3 separate regions of the Homo sapiens genome follow, and all the other regions are linked to region 3. The links come from fine-mapping of genetic effects on plasma protein levels. A gene starts in region 3. Each other region holds a variant in brackets. All regions are shown on one strand. Distances are between the middles of the regions. Region 1 overlaps CSF1R (colony stimulating factor 1 receptor). Region 2 overlaps CSF1R (colony stimulating factor 1 receptor). Region 3 holds the start of CSF1R (colony stimulating factor 1 receptor).

The links. PIP is the posterior inclusion probability: the model's chance that the variant is causal. Protein levels are from antibody-based Olink assays in UK Biobank. Linkage for the fine-mapping came from a reference panel and not from the study's own genotypes, which makes the PIPs less certain.
Region 1: its variant is fine-mapped to the plasma level of the CSF1R protein (UK Biobank, PIP above 0.99).
Region 2: its variant is fine-mapped to the plasma level of the CSF1R protein (UK Biobank, PIP above 0.99). The variant lies in the coding sequence of CSF1R. If it changes the protein, the assay may bind it differently, which can mimic a change of level.

What each region holds. Positions count from the first base shown.
Region 1 is chr5:150,061,379-150,067,216 of GRCh38, forward strand. It overlaps CSF1R (colony stimulating factor 1 receptor), which reads right to left. Exons shown (of 21, transcript NM_001288705.3): 11 at 345-471; 12 at 113-217. Among named protein-coding and RNA genes, the nearest start is that of CSF1R, 22 kb to the right of the region's middle. RefSeq lists a silencer at 3,457-3,632 and an enhancer at 5,583-5,632. The variant C/T (reference allele first, on the strand shown) is at 2,357.
Region 2 is chr5:150,068,415-150,076,414 of GRCh38, forward strand. CSF1R (colony stimulating factor 1 receptor) reads right to left here. Exons shown (of 21, transcript NM_001288705.3): 6 at 4,887-5,079; 7 at 2,042-2,157; 8 at 1,768-1,888; 9 at 1,459-1,649. Among named protein-coding and RNA genes, the nearest start is that of CSF1R, 14 kb to the right of the region's middle. RefSeq lists an enhancer at 1-233. The variant T/C (reference allele first, on the strand shown) is at 2,155.
Region 3 is chr5:150,082,722-150,091,863 of GRCh38, forward strand. It overlaps CSF1R (colony stimulating factor 1 receptor), which reads right to left and starts at 3,833. Exons shown (of 21, transcript NM_001288705.3): 1 at 3,658-3,833. The coding sequence starts at 3,706. RefSeq lists a promoter at 3,706-4,138 and an enhancer at 3,891-3,920.

The DNA.
Region 1 (5,838 bases), 23 kb before region 3:
CCCAGGCTTCAACAGGTTGAAATGTGTGTGATGCCTCTTGTGACACCAGGGCCAGCCCACCCCCAGCATCTACCACCCCCCATCCCTTCCCTCATCCCCTCCCCTCACTCACACTTCAGCATCTTCACAGCCACCTTCAGGACAGCATCCTCCTTGCCCAGACCAAAGGCCGTGGCCTCCACCACCTTCCCAAAGGCTCCAGCTCCGAGGGTCTTACCTGCCACGCACACAGGTCCCTTAAGTCCCTGGGCACCAAAGGGCCTCTGTCCAAGGGCCCATGGGCTCCCTGCAACCCCCACAGGCCCTGTGATAGGAAGCTGTGGAGTGATGAGCTGCCATCTCACCAAACTGCAGGTTGTTCCGGGGGAACTCCCACTTCTCGTTGTAAGGCAGCTGCGTGGGGTCGATGAAAGTATAACTGTTGCCCTCATAGCTCTCGATGATCTTCCAGCGGACCTGGTACTTGGGCTTCTGCAGAAGAGGAAGGGAGCACGTGGCAGTCGGGGCTGGCAGGCAGTTCCTGGACCTTGTTTCTGACCCCCAAGAGCAGGGGTGTGGGCAGTCCCAAGGCGCCCAGTGGGAGAAGGCAGGGCAAGGCCTGCTCTGGGCTGAGAGAGGTCGTCTCATGAACATAGCACTGAGAGCATGTTCCTGCTTGACTCTGCCTTGTTGTGTGACCTTCCCTTCTCCAAGCCTGTTTCACTATTTGTGTATTGAAGACCTTGGACAAGACAACCTCTGAGGGCCCTGATATCTCTGATAATCTGGTAATTCCTGAGCCAGGAGGGAGGGTGGAACTTGAGATCTTATCCATCCGTTCATCTGTCCATCCATCTACCCATCCATCCACCCACCCAACCTCCCATCCAAATATATATATATATTTTAATTGTGATAAAACATACATGAAATTTACCATTTCAACCATTTTTAAGTGTATGGTTCAGTAGTATTAAGTAAATTACATTCTACCTTGTGCAACCAGTTTCCAGAGCTCTTTTCATCTTGCAAAACTGAAATTCTGTTCCTGTTAAAAAGCAACTCCCCTTTCCCTCCTCCAGCCCCTGGCAACCATGATTCTGCTGTCTCTGTGAATTGCACTGCTCTAGGCACTGCACCTCAGTGGACTCACACAGCATGTGTCTATTGAGATTGCCTTATTTCACCCAGCATAATGTCTTCAAGGTTCATTCATGCTGCAGCACAGGTCAGAATTCCCTTCCTTTTTAAGGCTGAATAATAGTAGCCCATCCACATACTTTCTTGAACATCTATTTGTGTCAGGCACCGCTGATTCAGAGTTGAACAGGACAAAGTCCCTGCCCCTCCATGGAGTTTGCATTCTAGTGGCTGAGAGAGGCATTAAACGCAAATAAACATGTATCTAGGAGATTCTCAAGTGGTGCTATGAAGAAAATAAAGTAAGATAAGTCAGGGAAGGCCCCTAAAGAGCCCACCATGTGACCATCAGAGGAAGAATTTTCCAGGAACAGTGCATGGAAATGCTGTATGCTTGACATGGGAATGATCCTGGCAAGTTTGAGCTATAGGAAGGCAGCCATCATGGCTTGAGGGAAGTGGGGGGCAGATTCCAGAAACAGGAAGGCCTTGAGGGCTATGATAAGGTGAGTGGGTTCCCTTTTGGGATTTTTTTTTTTCCAAGACAGGATCTCTGTCCCCCAGACTGGCATGCAGTGGGGGCAGTCTTGGCTCACTACAGCCTCGACCCCCGAGGTTCAAGCAATCCTCCCACCTCAGTCTCCCAAGCAGCCGGGACTACAAGCATGTGGCACCACACCTGGCTAATTTTTGTAGAGACGGGGCTTTGTCGCAGCCTAGGCTGGTCTTGAACTCGTGAGCTCAAGCAGTTTGCCTGCCTCGGTCTCTCAAAGTGCTGGGATTACAGGCATGAGCTACCATGCCTGGCCGGGCAGTGAGAGACCCTGAGAGTTTGACACAGGTGAGTCGCCATCTGACTTTTTTTTTTTGAGACAGAGTCTTGCTCCTTCACTCATGCCGGAGTGCAGTGGCACGATCATAGCTCACTAGGCTCAAACTCCTGGGCTCAAGCAATCCTTCTGCCTTGGCCTCTCAAAGTGCTGGGATTATAGGCGTGAGCCATCGCACCCAGCCTTGACTTTACCTTTTTGAGAGAGAAAGAGAGACGCTGCCCACTAGATAGATTCTGGAGGACCAGCACCTTTGGAAAGACCTGATTTCCTTCCTTAGGCTCTCCATGCTGTTACCACCCAGCCAGGGGAGGCAAGCCCTGGGATGTGGGGAGGAGGAATGGCTGCCCCTGTTTCTTGCCCAGGGGTCAGCTGCTGAGGGGGAGTACCATGCTAAGGGTTGCCCA[C/T]AAGAAATGCTGATGGAAGACCAAGTTGAGGGGGAAAGTGGAAGCTGGGCTGGGGCGGTGGAGGACACTGAGGCCCTGGGTCAGCAGAGCAACTCTTTCCGGCCAGGCCTTGGGGATGGGACAAGCTTGGCTGTGCCTGCAGCTGGGCTCCTTCCCTGGGCACCCGAGCTAGAAACTTAAAGGAAGTGTGGACCGGTGCTAGGGAGGAGGCTGGCCTTTAGCTGCAAGTCCTGGTTGAGAGAGAAGATTCCAGTCATGTCCTTTGCAGCAACGTGGTGCAGCTGAAGGCCATTATCCTAAGCAAATTAACACCGAAACAGAAAACCTACATACCGCATGTTCTCACTTATAAGTGGGAGCTAAATATTGAGTGTGCATGGGCATAAAGATGGCACCAACAGACACTGGGGGCTACTAGAGCAGGGAGGGTGGAAGCGGGCGAGGGTTGAAAAACTATGGGAGCTATGCTCAGTAGCAGGTGATGGGATCCATATTCCAAAGCTCAGCATCACGAAACATACGCATGCAACAAACCTGTACGTCTATCCCCTGAATCAAAAATAAAATGTGGACATTTTTAAAGAGAGAGACAGGGAGAAAGCTTCCAGCTAACCATCAGGAAGAACTTCTAGCTGGTAGTTAGAGAGAAAAGACTGCAATTAGAAATGAGAAGGAACTAACTTCCAGGCTCTGATTCGGAAGGGCGGACTGCAGGTGAACTTCAGAGCCTCTGCGTTATAGCTTGGGAGAGAGTCTGAAACGGGACCCAGGGAGAAGAACTTCCCAAGCCTCTGAGGATCCAAATCCTGCCCGTGGGTGCCTTCCCAGCCCAAAAGACAGCAACAAGGCAAGGAGGGGATTCTTCAGCCTCTCCTGGCCACTTCCATCTCTAGGAGCCTCTGTGGCTAAGACTGTTTTTTCTTACCACTTCTTGTTCCTCTGTCCCTCTGCAGCTGGGCTGAGTCAGCCCCTCCCTGCCCCCAGCTGGGCAGGGGGCACTGTTGAAAGGGAGGGGATCAAGGAGGATGGAGGTTTGGCTGGATTCTCAGATTTCTGAATCCTAGGCTCCTAATTTCTGGAAGCGGACCAAGCTGCCTTCTGCCTGCCTCAGGAACCCTCCCCTGCCCCTGCTGGGCATGTAAACCTCCCAGGGCACCTGTGCCATCCCTGGAAAGGGCTCATGGGCGTCTACCCAGAGGCAGCCTCTCTTCCAAAGAACTATGAGTGAGAGATCAAGAGGTGGGGATGGGCGAGGCTCCCTGAGAAGGGTGGACGTAATTGTCATGATGGCAGCGGGTTCTTCCTGAGCTCTTCCTGGGAGTGGGGCGCTGGGCTAGATGCTTGAAGCACATCACCCCATTCATTCCTTGCAATGGGCCTAAGCCCCAGGCCCACCCCCTGACTTCTTCCCTTCCTCCCATCCTCCCCACCAAAGGGGGCATGGAGACAAAGTCCCGGTCCCCTCCCCATCTAGGCCTGCTGGTTCTGGGTGAGTGGATGTTCTCCATCCCAGGAAGGTGGAGATCTGAACAATTCCCAGTGGAATCTTTGGGGACCCTCCTGTTGCTCCTCAGAGCTCAGTTCCAGCCCCCAGAATCGTAGTCTTTCCAGCAGCCTCCCTGGACCCTCCCTTCCCTGCTGCCTCAGCCATTTCCCTGTGCGCCTCCTCCTCCAGGGGAGCCTGCTGACTCCTGCCCTTTTCTCTTCCCCCACGGCCCCCCTTGTGGTCACTCTGGGGGACAGAAAGGTGATGATTCAGCCCTGAGGCAGAACAAACACTCCCCACAGACAGGCCACTTCTTTCCCCAGGCCTGGGCAATGAGGAGAGGCTGGGCTGAGTCCCCAGTGAAGGGGCAAGGCTCCGAACCTCATGGGGCAAGGCAGAGGAGGATGGGAGGGCAGGCACTTAGCACGGGCATGACCATCCTGCCCCCTCCGCTCCCATGGGTGGACACCTCGGCCTGGAGCTAAAGGGTCTGTGAATGGGTGTAGGGGAGGAGGGTAGCTGCAAGTCTTCTCGCAGCCTTGCATGGGCTCCAGGGGCAGCTGAATTTCCTGGACAGGAAGTGTGGAGGTGACATGTTCCAAAAATGGTCCCGTGGAGAGGGGATACAGAGTTCCTAAACCACAGCCAAGGGGGCTGGCCAGCCCAAGGCAGAAAGGGCCGCAGGGGGCCCTAGGCTCTTCTCTGGAATCTCTGCATGACTGTCCTGGCAGCTCTGTGGGCACTGCGAGGCAGTTTTCAGTTCCATGTAAGGAAGAACTTTGCAAACATTGGAGCTGCTCAGAGAAGGAACAGGTGGCCCCGAGAGTGAGTAAGGTCCTGTCCCTGGAGGTGGGTGGGCTGGGCCAAACAACCGCTTTGGGTGTGTAGTCAAGGAGATGATGCCCGACCTCAGACCTCCCCCTCCTTCCACCATCCCAAGAGGCATGAGCTAACTCTGGTTCCCCAACGAACTTCCTCCTGGGACAAGAGTGTGCAGCTCCCATCACAGAGACTGTCTCGTCCAGCACCCCGCTCAGTCCTCTATGTGCGTTGTGGTACGGAATCCCTCACAACAGGCTGTTAATGATCCCATTTTACAAATGGAGAAGAGACTCAGACACACCAACTTTCTCATCATCCCATAGCCAGAGCTTGGCAGAGGCAGGATTTGGACCCAGATTCACTGAAGTCCAAGTTTCTGGTGCTTAAACTAGACCACCAGTGGGCTCTTGGCATGTCAGAGGAGGAGGGGCTGTTAGAGAACACCCAGACCCATGGTATAAGAGGGGAAACTAAGGCCCAGAGAGGACAGCGAGTCAGCTGAGGTTACATGGCAAAACAGTGTCAGAGCTGGACCTAGATCCGGAGGTATTGACCGGGGCTGCCCTCAGAGCAGCCTTCTCATGCTGAGTGCTGGCAGGAGTAGAGATCCCGATCCATGTGCCCCTGGGGCTCCCCCAACATCCTTCCCACCCTGCCCACTTCAAGCCCTCTTCTCACAAAAGCCCCAAGGGGGTGTGGGGAAGAAAAGGTAGCCAAGGGGACACAAGATGGGTCATTCAGTCCTTGATCACACCACTCCCTTGTTCAAACCCACTGATGGCCTTGGACCGACAGGGTGGGGTCCAACCCTTCAGACCCCCAACCCCACCCTGGTCCTTCCCTCACCTGCACCTCTGCACACTCTGCCCTCTCCCCCAGAGGTACCCTTTCCCTTAGTGTCATCTCCCCTGCTGCATCCTCATCCTCCAAAGCCCGTCCCACCAATGCCAAGCCACCTCCTCCAGGCAGTCTCCCTTACCCACCAGCCTGAAAAGTCCGTCCACCTCTGAACTCCCACAGCCCTCTGGCCTGGTCCTCTCAGCTTCTGATCACATTGCACATGGTCTTTGTGTGGGCAGGCAGGCAGTGGAGGCCATGGGCTCTAGGGACAGAAGCCCCTGGGGCCCAGTGCCAACCCTATCCCTCAGCCCCTTGGGGTTTTTTTTTTTAACCT
Region 2 (8,000 bases), 15 kb before region 3:
GTGGGTGCTCAATAAATGCTTGTTGACTGAATGAAGCATCCTCCACTGGAAGCCTCTGGAGCCTCTCCTGCACACCCTCCCCGAGAAAGGCAGAGAGGACGGCCTCTTCAGCTCTGCTCATGCCCAGCCCCAAACCCTGTCCAGAGTCACAGCCTCCTGTGGCTGGGGGTAGGGAGCCTCTGGGGTCATGCAGTCTCACCCTCTGCCAGTGCAAGAAACCTCTCTGCAGCGGCCTGGCCTGGTGCCCAGCCATGGCTTGCATGCACTACACCTCCAGGAAGCTCGTTCAGAAAGGCCTTCTGGAGGTCACACTGCAACCTTCCTCTCCTGCATTTCCCCTGCAGCTTCTCCACATGCCTTTGGAATCATACAGCCCTTCTGAGGGTCTAGCAAGCCAGGCTTGTGGCCCCTGAGTCTCCTCTTCCCAGAATCTATACTACTAGTTCTAGTGATGTTTTGGAGAACATAATTTCCACTTCCTTGCTCAGATCAGTAACTTAGATCTGCAGTCAAGTTTCACCTGTGCCACTTGGGAGCTGTGTGACATTGAGCCTAGGGAAAATTCTATTTATTTCCTAGGTTTGTAGGAGTTAATCGAGATAATCCCCACAAAGAGCTTAACACAGTGCCTGGCGCAGCAGAAGCCTTCAACAAAATGTTGGCTTTATTATAATATACAACCTCCAGCAGTGAGGCCCAGCGCGGCCGCAGGCTCCTGCTTGCAGCTGGACCCTGGTAGCAGTTGCTCCAAGGCCAGCAGCTGGGGACGTGAGTGACCACCCCTGAGCCAGGCAGATGCCAGGGTCTGGCACACAGTGGGTGCCAGAGCCTGGTTGTCAAAAGCCTGAGGATGCTGTGGGCCTCTGAGAATCACAGAACTAGCTGGTAAGGAGCCTTTGTGTAAAGCAGAGAGGCAGCCTGTGTTGTGCACAGGGCCGGGCATCATCCCCCGGGGCAGCCTCTTGCACAGCAACCTCAAATGGATAGACTGTGTCTGGAGCAAGAGGGGAGAGTTGGAGAAGGCCGTCCTTAGCTGGCCCCGAGCTGGAGATGGACTGTTTCCTTGCTCATTGCCTGCCTCCCTCATCAGCCTCTGAGCTCTGGGGAGGCACTGCTTCCCTGCATAGGGCACGTCCCTGGCACACGGTGCATAATGCCTGCACATACTTGTGAATAGATGCATGAGTTAGAGTGCAGGGACAAGAGTGGGGGCCAGTTTCTTCAGGCTGCTTTCTCTCTGCTTTCTCAGAGACTACCCCGTCCTACTGCTTCGGGGGACCTGCCAGGCAGGAGGGGCTTGGACTGGCCCAGAGAGGTGGACCTTGGTACTGCTAGGATCTGCTCCAAAGGTGGAGCCAACCCCAGCTCCCTCGGTGGGGGGTGGGGGAGGAGCCGCCTAAAGGAGCAGGGGCGGGGGGCGGGCGGGGGGGCGGTGCGGGTGCGAAGGCTCCCTCTCACCTGCAGAGATGGGTATGAAGGCCCAGGAGCCACTCCCCACGCTGTTGTGGGCCCTGCACTCGTAGGTTTGGTTGTGCTCTAAGGTCTCAACAGTCAGCAGGCTCTGCACCGTCACCTTGTGGAAGGGCTCCTGGCTCAGGACCTCAGGGTATGGGTCATCCCAGACCTGCAGCACTTGGGCCTCATCACACCTGGCAAAAGCAGAATGTGGCTCAGAGCTTCAGGGTTCCCAGCGCCAGCATGTCCCTCCCACTCACAGGGTGCCCAGCCCCTGAGCCCAGGTGAGGGAGGTGAGTGGAGCCCACTTACCTATCAGTGTGGCCACTGCACTGCAGCCATGTCACGTTGGGCTGGGGGTACCCAGAGGCAGCACACAAAAGGGTGCCAGAGCCGTTGATGAATGTCCATATGACGCTTACCTCTGGGGGGTCTGAGGAAGAAAGGAGGAGGCCCCAAGTCACACTTTCCCCGCCACCTCCCAATCTCCCAGTACCTACTTCCCTGTGCCCTGCCCCAGTCAACCCCATCCCTCCAGGCAGTCCCAGGGCCTCCGCCCCAGGTGGCGCTCGGCCCCAGCACTCACATCGAAGGGTGAGCTCAAACGTCAGAGCTCTCCAGCCTCCTGGGTTTCTGGCCAGGAAGGAGTAGCGGCCAGCCTCAGAGGGCTTCAGGCGGGGCAGAGAGAGGGTGAAGGTG[T/C]GCCTGCAGGAGAGAATCAGGTGGTGTTGGTGAGCCCCAGCCTAGTATGGCCCCTGCCAGGATTGCAGTCAGATAACAGCCTTAAAGGGGTTTATTTTATTTTTGGTAAAATATTCAGGGCCCAACGGCCTTGGGTAAGCCAGATACTCAGACAGGGTGCCATTGAGACATGCAAAAACCACCAATCCCATTTCCTTAGTTGGTTTTCTTATCTGAAAGTGTTTTTTTCCCGAGGTTTAATAGAGGTGATGTCTTCAAGGTGCTGGGAGGCCTATCACAGGTCGCCTACGTTGACCACTGTCACTGGACTAAGCTTTCATGAAAGCTGCAATCCCTGCTACAAATCCCTGAAGTGCCAACCTTGCCAAGAGGGACTGAGAAAGAGACAAGAGGCAGGATGTAGGGCCCTGGGTTCTGAGCCATGTTGCTGCAGAGACTGGGGTTCAAGTCCTGGTGCTGCTGTTTCTTGGCTGTGTGATCTTAGACAAGTACTTAACCTCTCTGATCCCTCACTTCCTTTGCTGTGAGAGTGATATCGATGGTTATTAATTCACAGGCTTGGCTTGAGGATTAAAGGACCTTTTTAGGGTGCTTGACACAGAAGTTGAATCTTTGTGGGCACTCAATTCAATGGTACCCTTTATTACAGAAAAGGCCCTGGAGCAAAAACTAACAATAAAAATCATCTTTGGCTGATTCTGGGAAATTTTTTGTTTTATTCTTTCTTTAATCTCTATTTTACAATTTGTCCATAATGAACATGTGTTGTTTAGGTAATAAATACATTTTTTAAAAAGTCCCCCAGTTCACTGTCAAAATAAATAAAATTTTAAAAATTATAGCAAATGGCCAGTTCTTGCTTGGGAAATGTCTGCAGCTACTACTAGACTAAAATCTATGGTATTCAGAGAGCAGTCTCATCCAGCCAGACCCTGGGCATATACAAGGCCTCTGCCCAGGTCACTTCTTGAGATAACTAACCCCTTTAACTAAAAATAATTTGACTTTTTTGGATAATTGAAAGTCACCATTATGAACAACCCATCACATGAACTAAAATTCTGTGGCTGTTTGGTGTCCAGGCTTGTCTGCCTTGTGCTGAATGGGCCCAGACTACTGTGTTTTAGGGGATCTCGTGTTCCTTTCCTCAATGTCTCTGTGGCTTATGGACCCATTAAACCGATCCATGGACCAGCCCCCTCCAAAGGGCCTACACATTCCAGATTCAGAACTTCTGCTTTAAATGAGAGGAAGACAGAGACCTGGCCAGAAAGGACCAGAAGGGAACTGAGAGGAGGAAGATGAGGACAAGAAAACATCCTTGTTGCTTCTGACAATTGACAAGCAAGATTGTGGGAATCAATGAGGTTTGGGCTTCCAGAGCTAGAACGAGAATCCCAAAGAGTTTTGAAGTTGTCTAAGGGATCCACACAGGGATGACAAACAGATCTCTCATGAGCCAACTATGCTGGAAATACTGCCTGGGACCTGTGTTGAGGAGGACTCTGAGGCCGCATCTACACTCTGCAGAACAGAGTTGCAGAAACAAGAATGAGAGTGAGTGTGGCATGCACACCACGTATTCGCTGCCCTTAAGCTGTACTGTCTCCCTCTGAAAGGGCAGGGTATGAATGATTATTTCAGGCCAGGCACGATGGCTCACACCTGTAATCCTAGCACCTTGGGAGGCCGAGGCAGGCAGATCACCTGAGGTCAGGAGTTCGAGACCAGCCTGGCCAACATGGTGAAACTCTGTCTCTACTAAAAATACAAAAATTAGCTGGGTGTGGTGGTGGGCATCTGTAATCCCAGCTACTCGGGAGGCTGAGGCAGGAGAATCACTTGAACCCGGGAGGCCGAGTTTGCAGTGAGCCGAGATTGTGCCATTGCACTCCAGCAACAAGAGCAAAACTCCATCTAAAAAAAATAATAAAAAGAAAGAAAAGAAGGAACTATTTTAATACCTGAGTTAATACCTGATATACCTGGTATGAGTGTTCCTCTTAGGCACAAAGCTTTCTTATTTAGAACCTACCTGCTTAAGCCACTTTGGATGAGAAAGCAAGACCCCAAGAACACAGTTCACAAGCAGACAGGAAAAAGATTTCTAAAATGTGTGTGGAATACACAGGATTGTGGGAGTGGAGAGACGGAAGAAGAGGGGTGTGGAGTTATTATAGATTGCACTTCATGGGAAGAGTTTTGAGCTTACAGAGAAGAGCAGCCAGTGAGAAATTCTTGGGGCTGGGTGATCACAATCCTTTAAAGAACATTTCATGTATCTGTGATTGTGTGATCTTAATTCCCTCTTCCCCTCCCTCCAAGCTTTTGTATGTAGCAGATAACTTGTGCAGTCATTATCAGGAGTGTGTCTATGAGTGGGGCTGTTTTCTGCATTTGGATTGGCCCCAAGAGAGGAAAATGAATGAGGCTGAGGGTTCTTGAGGGACCAATGAGAATGCACACTCCCAAGAAATGGTAGAATCCTTGGGTGGGGCATTGACTATCCCAAGGATGTGGGATGGAGAGGTAGGTCAATTTCATCTAGATCTCAAACACAGATGACCAATATTGGGATTCCATGAAGTCAGGGAAAGCGAAGCCCAGAAAGGGGCAGGGACTTGCTCAAGGTCATACACCAAGGTTGGGACATGAGCCAAGCGTCCTGATGCTTGCTGAAGCATACCCCATCTGGTTGTCGGGCTGTGTAGACGGGAGCTGATAAGTGGTACCTGTATGTGTCCTTGGTGGTAGCATTAGCAAGCTTGGGCTCAGGCTGGTGGTCAGAAAAGGGTCCCAGGTAGGTCCAGTTAAAACCTTGCAGGCCTGGGTAGGCCTCCACCATGACTTTGAGGTTGAGCCCCTCCCCCACGGTCACCTCCTGGATGAGGTTCTGCTCAGAGCTCAAGTTCAAGTAGGCACTCTCTGGAAAGCAGAACACACAAGCATCTGGCATTAGTGGGAAGATGTCCTTGTTTATTTGTCCATTTTGTCATCCACCCATTGATCCAGTCCCTGAGCAGCTATGTCACAGGTACATAGTCCCCACCACCCAAGACAGGTCCTCTGACACCCCTCTTCTCACCACCCCCTTCAGAATCCCTGGATCAAAACTTTTCTCACTGAAGCCCTAGGAGAACCTGGGCAAATCCCTATCCCCATTTGTGCCTCCATCTCCTTATTTGTGTAATGAAGAGATTGAATATATCTGTGATTTTCCAAGTTTTTGAAAAATTTTTGGCAGCAAGAAAACACACACACACATACACACACAATTTCACGTGTCCTCATCCATTTCCCTTTCTTCTGGTCATAAATTAGTCAATGCGGCTTCCAAATATAGCTCTGGAGTAGGTGTGTAACCCAGGCCAACCAGTGAGGGTACTCTGTCCCCTCTGGCCCGGTGATTGGTTTGGGTTACCATGAATCCATGAGTCCATAACACTCAATTCCATGATTTTTGTTAAGACTCTGGGAAAAGAGAAGCCCTCATTTTACTGGTGTTGCTGGATCAGATACTACAAGGCGGATAGTCGGAGTCCTACAAGGGGAAAGCCTTCCTGGCAGGGCTGAGAGTTGGGGAGTCATAGATTCTTTCCAGCATCAGCTGAACACCTGGATCCAAGTGTTCCTGAAGCTGATATCCATGAGCTTTTTAGCTATAAGGAAAAAAATCCTTTTAATTAGGCCAGTTTGAGTTGGTTTCTATTACTTGTATCTGAAAGAGTCCTGACTAGTTTTTTTTTTTTTTTTTTTTGAAACAGAGTCTTGCTCTGTCATCCAGGCTGGAGTGCAGTGGCACAGTCTCTGCTCACTGCAACCTCCGCCTCCCAGGTTCAAGCGATTCTCCGGCCTCAGCCTCCCGAGTAGCTGGGACAACAGTTGCATGCCACCACGCCCAGCTACTAACTAGTTTCTCCTAATGACATTTTGCACAGATTGTAATACAGCTGCTCTTGTTGAATCTCAGGCAAGGGAATTGTGGCAAGAACCCCAATTCACTCAGCCTCTCCGTGCCTGTCATGGTAGCCCCTGACATGCCTTCTTAAAACCTCAGGGCTCTGCCACAAGCCCTGGACTAGATGATTTCTAAGAGCTCCTCTCCTTACTCTATTCTGTCTAAAAATCTGAAATTCACCCTTCTACACTGATATATGTCTACTCAAAAGCCCTCTATGGAGTCCCATTGCCTCCATTATTCAGCGTGGCGTTCAAGGCTCTCAATCAAATCAGGTCTCACTGTGCTCATCCAGCCACCTCCCCTCTTCCTTCCTACACACACACACTCAACGCTCCACCCATCTGGGTCTCCTAACATCCCTGAACACACCATAGTCATTCCAACCTTGGAGGTTTTGCTCAAGCAATTTCCTCTACCAGAAATCCCATCCTCCTCCTTTTCATTATAGAGGCCCCTTTATCCTTTAAGATTCACCCCCATGAGGGAGTCTCTACTCAGTGCTCCAGGACACAGGAACCTCTCACTCCACTCGACTTTTGCTGCCCTTCCAGACTACACACTCATTAGGCACCACATCTGCACTGCTTCATGCATCTGGTTCTCCCTCCAGGTAGCTTTCTTCTCTCTCCAAGTAGTCTGTGAGCTTTTGGGGGCAAGGCTTTTCTCTTCTCTGTCTCTCTCAACAATCCATCTATCTATTATTCATCCATCCATTAGTCCATTCATCCATCCAAACACCAACAACTTCCTGCTGCCTTCACCATTACCACTCTAGTCCACCCACCATCAGCTCCAGCCTGGACCACTGCGGTAGCCTCCTTTCATCTCACCTTCCCACTTTAGCTCTCTGACCTCATCTGAGACCACTTTTTTTCTCACTCTCTCCCCGCAGCCACACTGGCCCACTTGTCCCCTGAACATGGCAAGCACAGTCCCGCTGCAGGATGGAGCTCCCTTCTCCAAAATGGCCGCATGGCTTGCTCCTTCAGCAATTTAAGCCTTTGCTCAAATATCAGCTTTCTAGTGAGATCTTCCTTGGTGAACACCCTATCTGAAGCTGCAAATGCTATATAATTTGTTTTTTTAATAATTTACTTGGCTCATTGCTTGCCCACTCCCAGCTAGAGCACACACTTCATGAGTCGGGGGTTGTTGTATCTGTTTCACTTGCAGCTGTATCCTCGATGTCTAGAACAGTGTCTGGCCCAAAGTGTGAATGAACATAAACATTTCTTGAGTGATGACTGTATGCCTGTACTAGAAAGCAGACAGGATTAGAAGCCGTAACTGAATTCTTGTGCTTTTGCTCTTCTTCCCCTTTACCCTGCCAAAGCTCCCAGTGCAGATTGGGGTCCACAGCAGAGCTCACAATCTGCTGCAAGTCCAGTGCCTTGCACATACTCTAGGGGCAGTGATGCTCATGATTCTCATGCTCCTCGCCACCTCCATCTCCCATAACATTCAACACATGAGGCACGGCCAGACCTAAATGTCTCAGAGCCTGCTCCCACTCCGATGAGCTGCTGCCTTGCTTCAGGGTCTGAGTCCAGTGACTGCCACTGCCTGCACCCAATCACCATAGCCAGAGACCTGGAGGTCATCCTTATCTCCTTTCTCTTCCTCATCCCTGCATCTCAGACTCTTCCACACACCACTGGCCATCTTCAGCCCATTCTCCAGCCTCCAGGTTCCCACCCAACCCACATGGTGCCAGACTGAGCCTTCTCAGATACTATCTCCTGGTGCACACTTGGACAGCATTTCCTGTGTCAGACCCTGTTCTAAGTACTTCCTATCTATCTATCTATCTATCTATCTATCTATCTATCTATCTATCTATCTATCTAATCTATCTATCTTCTATCTATGAAGGCAGTTACTGTTA
Region 3 (9,142 bases):
GCCTCAGGCTATTCTTCTGTCTGATGGGAATAATCCCAGCTCCCACCCCAAAAACTTCAGCTGAAGGTTGAGTGAGATGATGTATAGAACTACTCCTGCCCTGGGCACCTGCTTTAATTGCTACATTTCTAATGTCCCTTCTGGGCCAACTCTGATCGCTCAAGATTTTAACCTTGGATTCTGTGATTCCATTTGTTCCTTTTTTACACCTGCCTCACACCTTACAGTGGGCTTCTCCCATCCCTTCCCCCAGCCTGTCTCTCTAGACCCTGCCTTGGCCTCCAGGAAATGTGGTCAGGGAGCGGTGTCTGCCCTATTTTGTCCTATCCTATTGTCCCAGGTATTCACGCAGGATAAGGCTGATACCCGCAACTTCCGCAGCCAACTTCCCCTGCTGGCTTGGCTAGCAGGGAAGGAAGCCGGCTTGGCCCCCATCCTCCTCGGGGTGGGGGCATGGGCTTATGAACATTAACTGAGGTCCCCTTCTGTGCCTGTCCATTCTTCCCCCCTCTCATCTCCACTCCCCAATTCTCCCCATGCCCCACACCTCTCCACTAGCTCCCACTTGCCTGGAAGCCCCTCCCTCATCACTTCCAGAATGTGCCCCAATCTCTACTCTTCTCTCCCAACACACACACACACACACACACACACACACACACACACACACACACACACACTGCACACTAAGGCTGGACACAGCCCCTCTTCAGCCCAGGATCTCATCGCAGTAATGAAGAGAGAGCCCCCCTCTCTCTCTAGGGTCCTCCAATACCATCCCCAGTCTCCTCACAGTGGCCCCTCATCCACTCATCATTGGTCTGTTGGGCTGAAAACTTAGGTTTCCAGCCTCCCCATCTCTTCTTTCTCTTGGGACTGGACCCTGGAAAACCATCTGGCCCCCCTCCCACACACCATGCCCCTGTGAAGGGAAAATAAAAACTTGGGACCCTAATTCACTCTGCCAAAAGGAAAAATCAAGCTGGAAACTGAGTCATGCAAGAAGCTGCCTTGCCTTTTATTCCTAAGCAGATAGCGACAGATAAAAGGTAAAATATCCCACAGGCAGCTCCTCTATGTTCACTTTCCCTATGTAAAGAGCCAATTTACTGAACCGAGATAATTGACTGTTCCCCTACCTGCTGCTTTTCTTTTGCAACATGTGGATTACCACAACCTCCCCTTTTCCCCTCCAGCCCACTTTCCCCTTTAAATATTAAAGCCCTCGAATTCATCCAGAATGGCACAGACCACAGAATGTTTTTGTGACTCCATGTTTTTTTCTCGCCAGCATGTCCTTAACCTTGGCAAAATAAACTTCTAAATTGATTGAAGCCAGGCACAGTGGCTCATGCCTGTAATCCCAGCACTTTGGGACGCCAAGGCAGGGGGATCGCTTGAGTTCAGGAGTTCGAGACCAGCATGGCCAGCATGATAAAACCCTGTCTCTACCAAAAATAAAAAAATTAGCTGGGTGTGGTGGCAGGCACCAGTAATCACAGCTACTCAGGAGTGGCAGAATTGCTTGAACCCCGGAGGCGGAGGTTGCAGTGAGCCGAGATCCATGCCATTGCACTCCAGCCTGGGCAACAGAGCAAGACTCGGTCTCAAAAAGATAGAAAAAAGAAAGAAAGAAAGAAAGAAAGAAAGAAAGAAAGAAAGAAAGAAAGAAGGAAGGAAGGAAGGAAGGAAGGAAGGAAGGAAGGAAGGAAGGAAGGAAGGAAGGAAGGAAGGAAGAAAGAAAGGAAGGAGATGGAGTCTTGCTCTGTCGCCTAGGCTGGAGTGCAGTGGCATGATCTCAGCTCACTGCAACCTCTGCCTCCCGGGTTCAAGTGATTCTCCCACCTCAGCCTCCTGAGTAGCTGGAACTACAGGAACCCACCACCACACCCGGCTAATTTTTGTATTTTTTAGTAGAGAGGGGGCTTCACCATATTGGCGAGGCTGGTCTGAAACTCCTGATCTTGTGATCCACCCGCCTCGGCCTCCCAGAGTGCTGGGATTACAGGTGTGAGCCACCATGCCTGGCCACAAGACTCCATCTCAATAAAAAAAATAAAATTAAATTGAGACCTGGCTCAGATACTTTTCCGTTTTTGCCCCACAGGCAGGTTGTGGGTGTAAGGATAGGACAAGGCAGTGAAATCAAACCTGTGGGACTCTCTGAGATGAAGGGGGTGGCGGGTACACTGTGTGTGCATTTGTCAGACCTCATTGAACTTAAGAACCTGTGCTTTCTACTGCATGTAAGTTACATTGCAAAATAAGAAGTCCAGGCCGGGCGCCGTGACTCACACCAGTAATCCCAACACTTTGGGAGGCCAAGGCAGGTGGATCACCTGAGGTCAGGAGTTCGAGACCAGCTTGGCCAACATGGTGAAATCCCATCTCTACTAAAAATACAAAAATTAGCCAGTCATGATGGTGTATGCCTGTAATCCCAGCTTGGGAGGCTGAGACAGGAGAAACACTTGAACCCGGGAGGTGGAGGTTGCAGTGAGCCGAGATTGTGCCACTGTACTCCAGCCTGGTGACAGAGAGAGACTCTGTCTCAGGAAAAAAAAAAAAAAAACCCAAATACTCAAGCTCAGTGTGATTGCCTGGGCCAGAGAAGGATGGTCAGTGGGCCATCTCCTCCTCATCAGGGACCAGAAGCGCCACGGCCTTAGGGTCCTTCTGTGAAGAGGCCAGTATGAGGCTGTCCTTTCTCCCCTTCAATCCCCATCCTCCCCCAAGGTCCCTTTGAATAAGCAGGCAATAGAAATGTGTTTGTTGGGCCAACAAGCCAAGCACAGCAGCCCCTCACCTCTAGTCATGTTCCCTCCCAGATGGAAATTCTGCAGAACTGCTACAGCCTGGGGACCTCCTGAGACTTGGCAGCCTGTGTCTGGGAGGGCTCTGGTCCAGGAGACCCTCACTGGCCTCTTCCCAATCCCTCCTCTAGCCCTATACCTATTTCACCCCGAATTCCCCTCTCCTGAGCCCTGGGCCAGAGAGGCCAACCTCTTGTCTCTCCCCTCTGACCCCTTACACAAGCCACCCAAGGAAGAACCACCACCCCTATCAGGCCCTTCCAAATCAGATCTTGCATAGAATCATCGAATCACAGGCTGGCAGAGCTGCCAGAGCCATCAGGAGCTCTCCAGGTCCTCCCAACTCAGTGTAGGTCTGGACCAGCAGTGCCGGCATCTCACATCTCCCAGGAGTGTGTTGGATATACAGAATCTCAGGTCGCACCTGAGACCGACTGAGTCTGAATCTGCATTGTAACAAAATCCTCAGGTAACTTGTATGCACAGGAAAGTATGAAAAGCACTGCTCTGGTCTAGTCTATCACTGTCCCCCTGCCCCCAACACCTGCAATTGAATAGAAGTGGACACTGAAGCCTCAAGAGTATCAGAGGCTTGCTCAGGACACACAGTGAGTCGCTGGCAGAGCTGGGACAGATCCACAGCACCAGGTGGACCAGTTCCACCACACCCATCTCTTTTCACCCCACTACCTCTCCAAAGCAGATACCCACAAGCCTGCAGTCCAGTGTTGGGGAGACTAAAACAGCCTGAGGACACCCAGTGAGGGGCAAGGACTGAATCCTTTCACAGGGGTCTTCTCCATCACACCCCAACAAAGTCCCCCACCCCCCGTTCTGCTCTTACCATGCCAAGCTGTGGCCACCAGCAGGAGCAGCAGAACTCCTGGGCCCATGGCCTCGGTGGGGAAGTGGCAGGCAGGTGCAGGGCTGCAAGGTGCCCAGGGCACAGAGCTCTCAGCTACTAGCTCCGCAGGGATCGGGACACTGGACACACGTTCCTCTCCTCTGCACTGGCTGTTTGTCTTGTTTTCCTCTTCCTCCTCCTTGGGCTGATCCTCTTCTTCCCCTTTTAGCTAGGCAAGGCAACCACAGAGTTTGGAAATCTTGGGTCTTTAAGAAGAAAACAAAGCCTTGAACCCAAGAGGGAGGGGTCGCAGTCTGGGGCAGGGCCAGCCTGAGCTTGGGGGGAGCTAGCTAAGTTTGGGGCCCTTCTAAAGCCATCTTCAAGGGGTCTTGGGAGAAGAGACATGTCCAAGAGCAGCCAGACCGTTAGTCAGTAGCACAAATGAGGGTCTTCAGAGTGATCAGGTGGCTCTGGCAGATCCCAAAGAGAAGTTAGGTTGCATGATATTGTGACATATATATTTTTTCTTTACCCTGATGTCCTGGCTTACAACTCCTAAAATCCTTGGAATCTCCAAAGTAATGCATATCTTTTAAAAATTTATTATTATTATTTTAGAGACGCAGTTTCACTCTGTTGCCCAGGCTGGAGCTCTGTGGCTCGATCATAGCTCACTGCAGCCTCAAACTCCTGGCTCAAGCCTTCAAGCTGTGAGATCTGACGTTATCTCTAGGTAAATATAGTGTTCAAATTGAATCGGAGGGCACCAGATTCGTGTCTGCTGCAGAATCTGAACAATTGGTTGATTGCTTGGTGTATGGGGAAATATGCCCCATCCTCTACATCTGGGGTCAGAAGTATTTTGTGTTGTGAGACTATAGGAGAAACGGAGTTTGTTTTCTTCCTGTATACAGGTTGGTCTGGGAGAGCCTGATAATATTGGCAATAAGCTTCCTTTTACAGGACATTTACTAGCCAAACCTTTTACATTCACTGTCTCCTTTAGTACTGCAAAACTTTATGTAGGTAAGTACTATTGTCATTCTCATTTCACAGATGGGAAAACTAAAGCTCAGAGAGATCAAATGCCTTAAGCTTGTCCATAGTCAAACAGCTACCAAATGGTGGAGATAGGATTTGGATCCCAGCAGTCTGGTTATAAAACTATCTTTTGTGCGTTACTTACATTGTTTATTTATTTTTACAAAGAATCTAATTGTTCTGCATAATTCTTAAAATATATAGCATTCCTTTGCTCCCTCTTTTCCTGGAGGCAATTGCTTTTACCTCTTTTAGTTGATTCGCTTAGTATTTTACTTCTTATCTCTAAAGAACATGGTCATTTCTTCTTCTTTTTTTCTTTTTTTTTTTCTGAGACAGGGTTTGGTTCTGTCACCCAGGCTGGAGTGCAGTAGTGTGATCTCGGCTCACTGCAACCTCCACCTCCCGGACTCAAGCCATCCTCCTACCTCATCCTCCTGAGTAGTTGGGACTACAGGGGCATGTGCCACCATTCCTAGCAAATTTCTGTATTTTTGGTAGACATGGGGTTTCACCATGTTGTCCAGGCTGGTCTCAAACCCCTGAGCTCAAGTGATTCGCATACCTTGGCTTCCCAAAGTACTGGGATTATAGGTATGAGCCACTATACCCAGCCTAAAGTTCCTTCTTGAAATTGAAAAATCCTGATATAACATTGATCCAGGAAAATGATCATTCCCGTGTACTCAGGTGTGTGTGTGGTGTGTATGTGTGTGTTTGTATGTATATTTATGAGTGTATATATGTACTTTCTTTTTCAGAAAAGTGTTTTGAACCTTTAGCAATCATGAATGTCAATCAAAGCTGACTCAAGAAGAAAAAGAAAATCCAAATAAACCTATAACAAGAAAAGAAATTTAATCAGTAATCAAAAACCTCCCGACAAAGCAAAGCCCAGGACCAGATGGCTTCACTGGTGAATTCTCCCAAACATTTAAAGAAGAATTAATACCAATCCTTTTCAACTCATTCTATGAAGCCAGCATTTTTCTGGTACCAAAGCTAGACCAAGACATTGCCAGAAAAGATAACTACAGACCAATACAAATGCATGAATATAGAAAGCAAAAATTTTCAAAAATGTACTAGCAAACCAAATCTTTTTTTTTTTTTCTTTCTTTCTTTCTTTTTTGAGACAGGGTCTCACTCTGTCACTCAGGCTGGAGTGCAGTGGAGCAATCTCGGCTCACTGCAACCTCTGCCTCCCGCGTTCAAGCTATTCTCGTGCCTCAAACTCCCGAGTAGCTGGGATTACAGGCATGCGCCACCATGCCCAGCTAATTTTTGTATTTTTAGTAGAGACAGGGTTTCACCATGTTGGCCAGGCTAGTCTTGAACTCCTGACCTCAAGCAGTCTGCCCATCTTGGCCTCCCAAAGTGTTGGGATTACAGGCGTGAGCCACTGCACCCAGCCACCAGCAAACCAAATCTAACAGCATATTAAAATGATTATATACCATGATGAAGTGGGATTTGTCCAAGAAATACAACAGTGGTTTAACACATGAAAATCAGGGTAATACATCACATTAATAGAATGAAAAAAATCCTCATATGATCATGTCACTTGATGTAACTGTAAAACCCAACATGCTTTCATTAAAAACAAAACAAAACAAAACCCACCCAACAAACTAGCAATAAAAGGGAACAGCCTCAACGTGATTAAGGGCACATGTGAAAAAGCACAACTAATTCAATGGTAAAAGACTGAGAGCTGGTCCCTTTACATCAGGAACAAGACAAAGATGCCTGTTCTCGCCACTTCTGTTCAACATAGTACTGGAAGTCCTAGCCAGAGCAATCAGGAAGAAAAAGAAACAGAAGGCATCCAAATTAAAAAAGAAGAAGTAAAACTATCTCTGTTCACAGATGACATGATCCTATATATAGATAAATCCTAAAAGATCTACAAAAAGCAACTATTAGAGTTAATATACAAATTCAGCAAACCTGCAGGATACAAGATCAACATACGTAACTCTATAGTACTGATAATACTCCAATAAGGAAATTAAGAAAACAATTTAATTTGCAATAGTATCAAAAATAAAATATTTTGGAATAAACTAAGGAGATGCATGACTTTACAATGAAAACTACAAAACACTGTTGAAAGAAATTTAGAAGACCTTAATAAATGAAAAACCACCTTGTTTTCATAAGTTGGAGGATTTAATAAGACAGCGGTACTCTCAAAGTGAGACTGATTTATAGGGTCAATATAATCCCTATCAAAATCCCAACAGCCTTTTTCTGCAGAAATGGAAAAGCTGATTCTCAAATTCATATGGAATCTCGAGGGACATTGAATATGCAAAACAATCTTGGAGGAGTCACACTTTTCAATTTCAAAACCTACTATAAAACTACAGAAATCAAAATAGTGTGGTATCAGCATAAGAATAACTATATGGATCAATAGAATAAAATTGAGAGTCAGGAAGTAAACTCTCACATTCATGGACAACTGATATTCAACAAGGGTGGCAGGACCATCCAATGGAGAATGACCAGTTTTTTCAACATAGGTGCTAAAAGAACTAGATAGTCACATGCAGAAGAATGAAGTTGAATCCTTATTTTACATCACATATAAAAATTAACTCAAAATGAATTAAAGACCTAAATATAAAAGCTAAAATTATTAAAACCTTAAAAGAAACCATAAAGGTAATATTCATGACCTTGGAATTGGAAATGATTTCTCAGATATGTTTCTAAAAGCACAAGCAACCAAAGAAAAATTGGACATAATAAAAATTAAACATTTTTGTGCATCAAAGGACACTGTCAAGAGAATAAAAACACACAGAATGAATATTTATATCCACAATAAATAAATATATCCAGAATATATACAGAATGAAAGTTGTAGTGTTTCCTCAGCAAAAATCACTCTTGGTGCATAGTTCTATGAGTTTTGACAAATATATATAACAATGTAACCACCACTGTAGTCAAGATATAGAACAGCTCCATCACTCTAGAAAATGTTTCTCATGCTGCTCCTTTATAGTAAAGCCCTCCCCAAACCCCTTACACCAAACAACCACGGATCTGTTCTCCATCCCTGCAGTTTTGCCTTTTCCACAATGTCTTTGTGCTTTACAGGATAATGTCATATAAATGGAATCATACAGTGTGTAGCTAAAGAATGTATGTAGAATCACGCAATATGTAGCTAAAGCCACTCTATTGTCCCTCACAATTAATAAATATTTATGGGAAAATAAATTTTAAAAAAGAATGAAAGTTGTAGTGTTGCCTACAACAACAAAAAAACAATTAAATTTAAAAATAGGCAAATTCAAATATTGCATGTCCTCACTTATAAGTGGAAGCCAAACAAAGGGTCCACACGGATATAAAGATGGAAAGAATAGACTCCAAAAGTGGAAGGATAGAAGGAAAGGGGAAAGGGCAAAAAGGAAGTGAAAAATTACCTATTGGGTACAGTGTTCAGTATTTGGGTACTGGGTACACTGGAAGCCAAATTCACCATTATGCAATGTACCCATGTAATAAACATGCACATCTACTCCCGAGTCTAAAATAATTTTTTTAAAAAACAGGCAAAACATTGAATAGATATTTCTCCAGAGCACATGAAAAAATACTCAATATCATTAGTCATTAGGGAAGTGCAAATCAGAACCACCTTGAGATACCACTTCATATCTACTAGGATCATCATAATAAAAAAAATCGGATAACAAGTGTTGGTGAGGATGTGGAGAAATTGGAACCTTTGTACAATGTTGGTGAAAATGAAAAATGGTGCAGCTGCTATGGTAATCAGTTTGACAATTCCTCAAAAAGTTAAACATAGAATTGTCATATGATCCAGAAATATCACTTCTAGGTAAAACCAAAAGAATGGAAAACAGGGACCCAAATAAATACATGCACGCAAATATTCAACGCAGCACAATTTACAGTAGCCAAAAGGTGGAAACAGTTGACAGCTAAACAAAATGTGGTGTGTCCATACAATTGAATATTATTCAGCTATAAAGGGAATGAAATACTGGTACCTGCTACACTGTGGATGAACCTTGAAAACACTGTGTTAAGTCAATGAAGCCAGTAGCAAAATGTCATACGACTCCATCTATATGAAACATCCAGAACAGGTAAACCTGTAGAGGCAGACGGTTGACGAGTGGTTACCAGGGGATGTGGCAAGGGAGAATGGGGAGTGATTGCTTATGAGGAGGTGGTTTTGTTTTGGGGTGATGAAATGTCTTGGAACTAGATAAAGGTGATGGCTGCCCAGCATTGTATTTGTCCTAAATGCCGTTGTACACCTTAAAATGGTTAATGTTTAATTTTATGTTATGTGAATTTTATCTCAAAAAAAGAGAAGGGATAAAGATTATCTTTGACAAACAAAAACTAAGAGAATTCATTGCCAGCAGACCCATACTACCAAAAAAAAAAA